Linked DNA regions of Homo sapiens: all the other regions are reported to be linked to region 2. Evidence: microRNA targets listed by miRTarBase, many of them from high-throughput screens and not tested one by one. Region 2 holds a microRNA gene; each other region holds the end of a gene's coding sequence. Distances are from middle to middle.

Region 1 (3,259 bases), 18 Mb from region 2:
GCAGCCCCACCTCCCCTCTAGGGAAGGCAGACAGCATGGGAGCACGCCTGGGCCTCCTGGGAGCTGTGGGCCAGAGGGAGAGCAGGTCCTCCAGCGCAAGGGGAGTGGGAAATGGCTCTCACAGGTGCCTGCAGGGCTGAGCAACCTGGGTCCACTGATGGGGATACAGGGAAGGGCTGCTGTCCCTCTCCCCAGAGGGAGGAGCAGACAGGAGAGAAACAGGGAGGAGGCGCGAATTCCAGTAGCCAAGAACCTGGTCCTTTAAAATCCAGGGAGTCATAGGCAGGAAACTCCCCCCACACCCCCACCGCCAGGCGGGCCAAGCCTGAAGGCAGAGAAGGGACAAGTAAGGAGGCCCAGCAGGAACGAAGCCCTGGCCTCCTGTCACTCAGAGCTGTGTCACAGCAGGAGAGGAGGATGGAAATAAACGAACACCACACCTTTTTAATATGAGGTTTCATATTTATTTTGGTCATAAACATATGAGTATTTCATATATAACCAGGTGTTATGTGCTATTTGGCCCGGGTATAAAGCAAAACCTAAACAAATCAACCAACGCCAAAAAACCCCAACAATTTCATGTTGTCAGGAAGCTTATGTTAAAGGAATAAGCTTAAACACTGATAAGGCTGGTAGTCTAGATGCATCTTCAAGGAAGGCCTCTGAGGAAGGGACAAAGGAGCTGGGACCGGACTGGCTCTCTCTGAGCTTTGAGACCAAGTCTCCTGCACAGAAGGCCCAGCAAAGGCAAAGACTAGGAGGCAGCAGCACCCTGTGTCATCCAGAAGTGCAGGGGACAAGGTGTGGGACGCCAGATGGAAGTGGGAGAGGATGGAAGTGCGAAGACCGGAAAGGCCATCCCCTCCTAAAACTCCATGGACACAACAATCTGAATGTGCGAACTTCAGGCAGTTCTAACTTTGTCCCAGCCAAACCAGTCCCGGAACAAAACACACAATGCCTTGAGATGGAAAAGACTGAAACCCCTAGAATGACTATATCCGTAATTTATCCTACCACGACTGGGCTACTGTGGAGAAGAGTTTGCTGGAAAGAAGCTAAAACGATTACTGAGGTTTTTAAATAAAATAATGGAACGTGACACAAGGACAAATGTGTCAGCCATTTTAGATCCTGTTGTCACAGTGTTTAAGAATTGATATCTCTGAGATGAGTCAGATGCTTACAGAGGGGCCAAGCTCCTCAAACAGGGAATCTGTACCCTAAAACGCAGCTCAGGAATCTCTGCCCTAAAAGGCATCCCAGGGACTCAGTTCACAGACCACCAGAAGCGAGAGGGGCCCATCCATGCCTGAGTCGGCAACCATTTCACACCATTCCCAAGCACCGTCCACTCTTCCCTCTTGATGCCATGGCAGATGCCGGGGCAGATAAACACCTGCTCTGCCCTGAGCCCAAATGAGGCTCAAGATTCACTAACGTTCAACTGTAATGGCGCTTGAAAGAGAAGCTCTTCGCAGTCTCGGATCTAACTTAATTCTCACTGTCCTCATCTGCTGTGGACAAGTCGGAAGATGCAGTCCCATGACTGTCCCAGCACGACAAACCAGACACATGGCTTCCCAAAGATACCAGGCTCTTCAAAATCCTGGGCATATGTAAACATCTACTTATAAATAAATAAATAAATATTTATTTATAAATAAATATGGCTATATACCTCTAAAATTAACAAGTAAGACAAGCTGCCCCTTGAGAAGCTGCCAGCCATCAAACCCTGGTCCAGTCTCAGGGCGCAGGAGGGAGAACTGGAATGCAGTAAGTGCCTCCCACAGAGGGAGGATTTCTCCCTCCGTCACTAGTTATATTTTTAGTCATTTTTGACTGCTGATTTGTATCCAGGCAACCCATGTAAACAGCCTAATAAGTGCATTTCCTAAAGTTTTTCCATGTTTACATCATTATACAAAAATCGGAAAAGAGATGTACAGCCTACAGTAGTAAGCAATATAAATGTTTCTCTAATTAAGGTGGGGGTAAGCCCCAATAATCCTATCTTAAAGCTCAAAACTCTAAGTCGAACCCTCGTAAGTCCATATGCTCATGACTTAGCATAGGGCTACGTCTTGATAATCTCATCATTAAGTCAAAAATATCCGAAACTGAAAATACAGGTAATAACAAGATAATCCCGTTCTAAAGTTAAAAAACTATAAGGCAAAGCATTGTGGCTGTGCGGCATCTGTAGTTAGATGTCATTAAATGCACACACCAGTAGAGATGGAGCTTGCAATATAAGAAGCAGAAAAAAAGACTTGTCTCATGATGAAGAACTGCAAAGAATGACATCCTAAAACCACTTTTTTTCTTTTTAAATTGAGATGGAGTTTCACTGTGTTGATGAGGCTGGTCTCAAACTCCCGAGCTCAAGCAATCCACCTGCCTCAGCCTATCAAAGTGCTGGGATTACAGGCATGAGCCACCGCATGTGGCCTAAAACGACCCTTAATACACAATCGTATAACTATGCAGCCAAGAATCTGATATAAATTTCTCCCGTTTGCTTATCACACGCAGTATTTCATAAAAATTACTCCAAGTGCGTTAACAAAGTTCTAGGACCATTGGTAAGCTGCCCCATATTGGATAGTAGAGTTTGTTGGGGCATGGGTCAAGTACTGGACTGTTTCTTCCAGGCTGCTTCCCTTTGTAGGAGAAAAGGTAAATGAGGGAAGCTCTGGTTTCCTGAAGAGATTCTTTCACAGGCAGGACGTAGCAGAGCCTGCCTCATCTTCTTCATAAAAGAGCTTTTCGGAGCCCACCAGTTGGTCCTGAATTGTTTCCTTTGCATGTCCTTCTTCCAGTGTTGCCGAGGCATCCAGCAAGGTGCTGACTGAGAAGAGAGAAGAGATTTAGGGTCTCAATGCTCCAAGGACGATCAGCACAGGATCGACATGGGGCCCCCTGCTTCCAGCAGTGAAACCTCCAGAAGAGCCCTCTCAGCTATAGGGACAGCAGTTAGGACACCGTCCCTATTCCCTGTCCTCCTGCTGCGTCTCAAGGCACAAAACACTTACTGTCAGCGGAGTCAGCGTCATTCACTGGAACCAGCAGCCTCCTCCTCTGACACCCTTCAGCTTCTGCCTGTTCCTGTAACACACAGTGGGGAATGCTCTGGTCAGAGTCAGGAGTCCTGCAGTCTAGTACTGACCCTGACCACTAGCCAGCAAGAGACCTGCAGCGCTTTCCCTCTTGGGTCTCCATGGAGATGGAGACAAACCTCTGGTCCTCCATA
Region 2 (3,259 bases):
TGATTGATAGCTTGCCTCAGTATCAAATTTGGCAATTTTAAAGGCATTGATTCATTATCCTCCAGTTTCCAGTGTCTGTATTGATAAATCCAGTGCAACTGGGATACTGATCCTTTGTATTAGATGTCTACCCTTTTCTCTTGAAGATTTTAAAAGTTCTTTTTGTCTTTCATATTTGTAAATGTCATGATTCTTTGAGCTGGGTGTTGTTTAACCTGAGGACTCATGTTCTTCATTTCTGGAAAGTTTTCTTGTATTATTTCTTTGGTATTTTCTGCCGTTTGTTTTCTTGTTCTCTCTTGCTATAATACCCTTTTCTCAGATGTTGAAACTCTTGGATTGATTCTCTTTTTCTTTCCTCTGTTTCCCATCTGTTTGTCATTTTGTTCATCTTTTCATGAAATTTCTTCAACCTTATCTTTTAAAAAAAATTTAAAAAATATTCTTGAAAAAATTTTTTGAGACAGTCTGGCTCTGTCACCTAGGCTGGAGTGCAGTGGTGTAATCTCAGCTCACTGCAACCTCTGCCTCCTGAGTTCAAGCAATTCTCCTACCTCACCCTCCCAATTAGCAGGAATTATAGGCACATGCCACCACACAGGCTAATTTTTGTATTTTCAGTAGAGACGGGGTTTCGCCACGTTGGCCAGGCTGGTCGGGTCTTGGACTCTTGGCCCCAAGTGATCCACCTGCCTTGGCCTCCCAAAGTGCTGGGATTACAGGCGTGAGCCACCGTGCCTGGCCTCTTTAACCTTATCTTAAAACCATTATTTATTGATTTTCTGTTATTGAAGTTAAAGATTTATCTCTTTTACACTATCTTTCCAATATAATTACATCACACTTTTGGTTAATATTGAATGTTTAATTTATTAGAATTATGTAAATATTATTTGCAGCTGAGCCATGTAGTGTACTGCATATTTATTTCCTTTCTTTCACATCTTTTTACTTGTCTTGCATTTTATATTTCTTCTCTTATATTTTAAATTTCCAAGTAATCTTTCCCAGTCTCTGAACATTCCTTTTAATAGCTTTCTGTTCTTGTTTTAGGAATACAAAAGTCTTATCTAATTTATTATCATTTAAAACAATTTTTTTTGAGGCAGGGTCTCACTCTGTCACCCAGGCTGGAGCGCAGGGGTGCAGTCATAGCTCACTGCAGCCTCAATCTCCCCAGACTCAGCTGATCTTCTCATCTCAGCTTCCTGAGTAGCTGGGACTACAGGCATGCACCACCATGCCTGGCTAATTTTTTTTTTTTGGTAGAGATGGGGTCTCACTATATTGCCCAGGCTGGTCTCTAACTCTTGGGTTCAAGTGATCTGCTTGCCTCAGCCTCCCAAAGTGCTGAGATTACAGGTGCGGGCCACCACTCCTGGCCATATTATCATTTTTTAAAGTTTTTTTTTTAAAATTTTATTTTATGTACAGAGAGCTAGCATGGTTTCTTTCACTTGGTGGATGCCTTGGATAATCCATTCAGGGAAGCTCACTTAGTCTAACCTAATGAAGCCTACCTCCTCTGCATACTGATGGAAACACTGGCAGCACATATTGAGGCCATAATGACAAGAATGAGAACCCTGGCCGAATTTTTTTGGATGGCTCCAGGAGAGCTGCTGGTGACCCATCTTGCTTTTAGGAGTGCAACAAGGCAAAAAGTGAAAAGTTTTTTTTTTTAATACTCCCTGCATTGTCTCTGTTATCTCTGAATTCCTTTTCTTCCTTTTCTGTTTTGTATGTTACAGTCTCTGCCATTCACATTTGGAGGCTTTCCTTAAATACTTGCCAGCCCTTGACTGTCCATTTGAATTTAACAGCGAGACATGACGTTGGAAGCTCTTTGTGTACATGCAGGGCCTGTGATTTGTTAGGCCTCACTTGAGAATTTTGCAGAGGGCCCATATGTCTTTTCTTTTGAACTATTCTTAGGTTGATGCAGAAGTAACTACGGTTTTTGCAGTTGAAAGTAATGGCAAAGACCGTGACTACTTTTGCAACAGCCTAATAGTTTCTTTAGAGAAAAACCACTCAATCCTCTGACACAGGCATATAAATGTAGTGTTCTAAGACCCGAGTGTCTCATTCTTCACTTTGCAGACTTTCATGTAACCCTTTGGTGTTCACGCAGCAGCACCTGTCCGGTCCTCCTCTGTGTCTAGTATACCCCAGCGGCAGGCTGTGTGCAGGTTCAGGCCTTCTTTTTTTCCCCCTTTTCTTTTCTTTTTCTTTTTTTTTTTTTGAGATGGAGTCTTGCTCTGTCACCCAGGCTGGAGTGCAGTGTGCGCTCTCGGCTCACTGCAATCTCCACCTCCCGGGTTCAAGCGATTCTCCTACCTCCAGCCTCCCAAGTAGCTGGAACTACAGGCCTTCTGTATGGAATGAAGCCCATGGCTACTGCTGGAGTTGGTGAGGGCAGCCACCTGGACTCATGGCCCAGGGGAGTAGGTTTGAGTGTCCATATGTAAACTTGCTGCCAATCCCAACATTGACAGCCTCTGTGATGGAGTTCAGGAGTGTCCGGGGGCCCCAATCAGGAGCATTTGTGGGACCTGGAGTGCAAATGGGCTTGTTTTTTACTGGCATCCCTGTCTGTCCCTCTTTTTCTTCTTTTCTCTGCACTTTACTGGCATCCCTATCTGCATTTTAGCTTTTCTTCTCCCTTTTAAGCCAGATTCTACCATCCATTTGCTTTCTGTCATACAAAATGTTGATATGTTCTTTTTTCCTTTACCACTTTCTTGCATGTGTTTATAACTTGTTTTTTTGACTCTAATTTTAAACTGACTTCAAGAAGAGTGGGAATGATTGCACGGGCTCAGTCTAATCCATGTGGCTAGCGTGCCTGCAAGTGCTCCTTCGCACTCAGTCCAGAAGCTTGGTGATATGGCTTCTCTCTTCTTTTCCCTTCCCATTGGATTTTTGCTCTCTGGAATTTGCCCTCACCACTCCAGATCCTGGCCTCCTATGGGTTGGCGTGGCCCCCTAATCACCCAGTGAAGTGCTCTAGTTTCAGACTCATTCTTAAGCTCTTCGGCACTTAGGGTTGAGGGGTGTTTCCTCCATTTAAATGGACCCTGTGGTCTTCATTGACACTGGGCTGCCTGGTTTCCCAGCGGGGCCTCCCGTGGCATTTACAGTAACTCTTCTTCCTTTCACCTGACGAAGGCGCTCTCTAGTATGTCCCTCTTTCCCTCTGTACTTTACCCTTCATTGCTACTATCATCTGCCATCAGAGGAGTTATAAGATTGATTC
Region 3 (3,259 bases), not on the chromosome of region 2:
ACATAAGAGAATTCATACGGGAGAGAAACCTTACCAATGTGCAGAATGTGGCAAAGCCTTTAACTGCTCCTCAACCCTTAATAGACATAAGATAATTCATACTGGAGAGAAACCTTACAAATGTAAAGAATGTGGCAAAGCTTTTAACCTATCCTCAACCCTTACTGCACATAAGAAAATTCATACTGGAGAGAAACCCTATAAATGTGAAGAATGTGGCAAAGCTTTTAACCAATCCTCAAACCTTACTACACATAAGAAAATTCATACTTCAGAGAAACCCTACAAATGTGAAGAATGTGGCAAATCCTTTAACCAGTTCTCATCTCTTAATATACATAAGATAATTCATACTGGAGAGAAACCCTACAAATGTGGAGATTATGGCAGAGCTTTCAACCTATCCTCAAATCTTACTACACATAAGAAAATTCATACTGGAGAGAAACCCTACAAATGTGAGTATGGCAAAACTTAATTGATCCTACAAGCTTACTACACATAGGAAAATTCATACTGGAGAGAAACTACAAATGTGAAGAATGTGTTAAAGCCTTTAACAAGTCTTCAACTTTTTCTGCACACACGAGGTATTTTATACTGGTGAGAAACCTTACAATGTAAAGAATGTGGCACAGCTTTTAACTAATCTTCAAACCTTACTGAAAGTTGAGAAAATTCGTACTGGAGAGAATCCTACAAATGTGAAAAATGTGGCAAATCCTTTAACTGATCCTCAACTTTTACTAAACATAAGGTAATTCATACTGGAGAAAAGCCATACAAATGAGAAGAATGTGGCAATGCCTTTAATCAGTCCTCACACCTTTCTACACATAAGATAATTTATACTGGAGAGGAACTCTATAGTTGTGAAGAATGTGGCAAAGCTTTTAACCAATCCTCATACCTTACTATACAGAAATTCATACTGGAGAGAAAGCCTACAATTGTGAAGAATGTGGCAAAGCTTTTAACCTTCCTTAACCCTTAACTGTAGATAAGAAAATTCATACTGGAAAGAAACCCTACAAATGTGAAGTCTGTGGCAAAGCTTTTAACTGATTCTCAACTCTTACTACATGTAAGAGTATTTATACTGGAAAGAAACCCTACAAATGTAAAAAACGTGGCAATGCCTTTAACTGGTCCTCACACCTTGCTACATATAAGACAGTTTATACTTTGAGAGAAACCCTGCAAATGTGAATAATGTGGCAATACTTTAAACCAATCCTCAAACCTCACTAAACATAAGATAATACTGAAAACTTTACAAACCTGAATGATGTGACAATAATTTTGACAACACCTCGAACTTTCTAACATAAATCATACTGGTGAAAAATCCTAGAAATGTGAAAAATATCACAAAGCCTTTAAATGGTTGTCACACTTGATTGTAGGTAAGAATCCATACTGAAGAAAACTCCTGGAAGTGTAAAAAATGTGGCAACACTTTTAATAAATGCTCACCCCTTATTGCACAGGAAAGCATTTATACTTCAGAAAGATTGTACAAATACAAGGAATGTGGAAAAGCCATTATTATCTGCTCAGATTTTACTCAACATTAGAGAGTTAGTACGTAATAAAAGCATTATAAATGCAATTTTTGTCAAGAGATCTTTCAGAAAATATAAGCCTTTAAAGTGAAGAAGAGGAGCCAGTTGTGCTGGCTCACATCTGTAATGCCAGCACTTTGGGAGGCCAAGGTGGGTGGATCACCTGAGGGCAGGAGTCTGAGACCAGCCTGGCCAACATAGCAAAACCCCATCTCTATTAAAAATTTTACAAAAATTAGCTGCGTGTGGTGGCAGGCCCCTGTAATCCCAGCTAATTGGGAGGCTGAAGCAGGAGAATTGCTCAAACCTGGGAGGCGAAGATTGCAGTGAGCTGAAATCACACCACTACACTCCAGCCAAAGCAACAAGAGCAAAAACTTCGTCTCAAAAACAAAACAAAAAAAGAGTATTCATTGTGAGGACAAACAATACAAATACGAAGAGGGTTGTAGTACCTTTACTTGTATCACAGATACTTTTGTACCCATTTTGCACTAGAGGAAAACCATGAAGCAGTTGCTCAAATGTTGTTCAACACCAGAAAATTTATATTGGAGAAAAGCACTGTAAATGTAATGCATTTGTGAAAACATTTTTTAAAAAACTACAGCTTAGAAAATACCAGAGGCCTCATACTAAAATATATTTTTGCAAGTGAAGTAAATATAAAAATAATTTAATCCAAAATTAAGTCTATATAAATATCAGAGAATTCACAGTAGAAATATCTAAGGTACTGACACTTCAGACATTGCTGAGTATAGAATCAGAATGCTGAGTATAGAAAATAATTTAAAACTAAAGTTGGTAGGTAAATAATGTGTATATAACTTTAAAAGAAGTAGAATTTTTTTGTAGATGTATAATTACATTCAAATTATATTTTTTCTTGAAAAATTAGTTTTTGAAAAGCAAATGATGTAATTCAACTCAAATTCATGCTCTTCATTCCTATTGTATTCACATGTGAAAGCATGTGATTAATTTTTCATGCATCAAAGATATGAGAAATCATTTCTGTTAGGTCGGTATTATTTATGACACTTTCTATGAAAGAATAAGGACATTAAAATGTAAGATGCATGATGAAAACCTGAGTGAAGAGGCTGTTTGTGTTTAACTTATAATATTGAGTGATCCATGAAGTAGGTTTTCAGAGCAATATTCTTCTGCATTATAGTAAGAGAAAACCATTTTTAATCTTAGTTAAAATTAAAGTGAATTAGTAGTATATCATTTTACTATTTGTACTTTTATGTAATAAAATGCAATGTGTTTAAAAATTTTTGGATTATGCGTGAACTTAGTTTTTTAATTAAACTTTTTTTAACATGTTAAAACTATTGTGCATTCAATGAAGTGTTTTCATGCCACTGACTTTACCTATCCCACATTACTCAAGGGTTTAGGTAAAAGAGGGTAACAGTATACTACTTGATAACATAATGGGCTAACATCTCTAATAATTATTTTTGCTAGTGACTTTAAACTGCTAATAAAGAATATTGTTCCCATAGGTTAGATTTTTATTCTTTTTAAAATTTAAACTTATTTCTCTTAATTTTTGTGGATACATAGTATGTGTATATCTTTATGCCATGTATGGCATATTTTGATACAGGCATATAATTTTATGTATTAATCACATCAGGGCAAAAGATGTATCCATCAACTCCAGCATTTCTCCTTTGTAT

The links. The annotated mature microRNA hsa-miR-548ao-3p reads AAAGACCGUGACUACUUUUGCA and lies in region 2 at 1,981-2,002, shown strand. An mRNA with a match to its seed (bases 2 to 7 or 8) in the 3' UTR can be bound and repressed. Matches are read on the target gene's strand: a 7mer-m8 pairs with bases 2 to 8, a 7mer-A1 pairs with bases 2 to 7 and ends in A, and an 8mer does both.
Region 1: the mRNA of TNFRSF10D is a reported target of hsa-miR-548ao-3p. Seed matches in the 3' UTR shown: 7mer-m8 at 846-852.
Region 3: the mRNA of ZNF107 is a reported target of hsa-miR-548ao-3p. The part of its 3' UTR that is shown has no 7-base or 8-base seed match.

Annotation. Positions count from the first base shown.
Region 1 is chr8:23,135,147-23,138,405 of GRCh38, forward strand. TNFRSF10D (TNF receptor superfamily member 10d) reads right to left here. Exons shown (of 9, transcript NM_003840.5): 8 at 3,042-3,114; 9 at 442-2,857. The coding sequence ends at 2,724. Among named protein-coding and RNA genes, the nearest start is that of TNFRSF10D, 27 kb to the right of the region's middle.
Region 2 is chr8:41,269,808-41,273,066 of GRCh38, reverse strand. It overlaps MIR548AO (microRNA 548ao), which reads left to right and starts at 1,924; the gene lies at 1,924-2,019. All of the region lies in intron 2 of SFRP1 (secreted frizzled related protein 1), which reads left to right. It also overlaps the pseudogene RPS29P2.
Region 3 is chr7:64,708,179-64,711,437 of GRCh38, forward strand. It overlaps ZNF107 (zinc finger protein 107), which reads left to right. Exons shown (of 4, transcript NM_001282359.2): 4 at 1-3,259. The coding sequence ends at 478. Among named protein-coding and RNA genes, the nearest start is that of MIR6839, 31 kb to the left of the region's middle.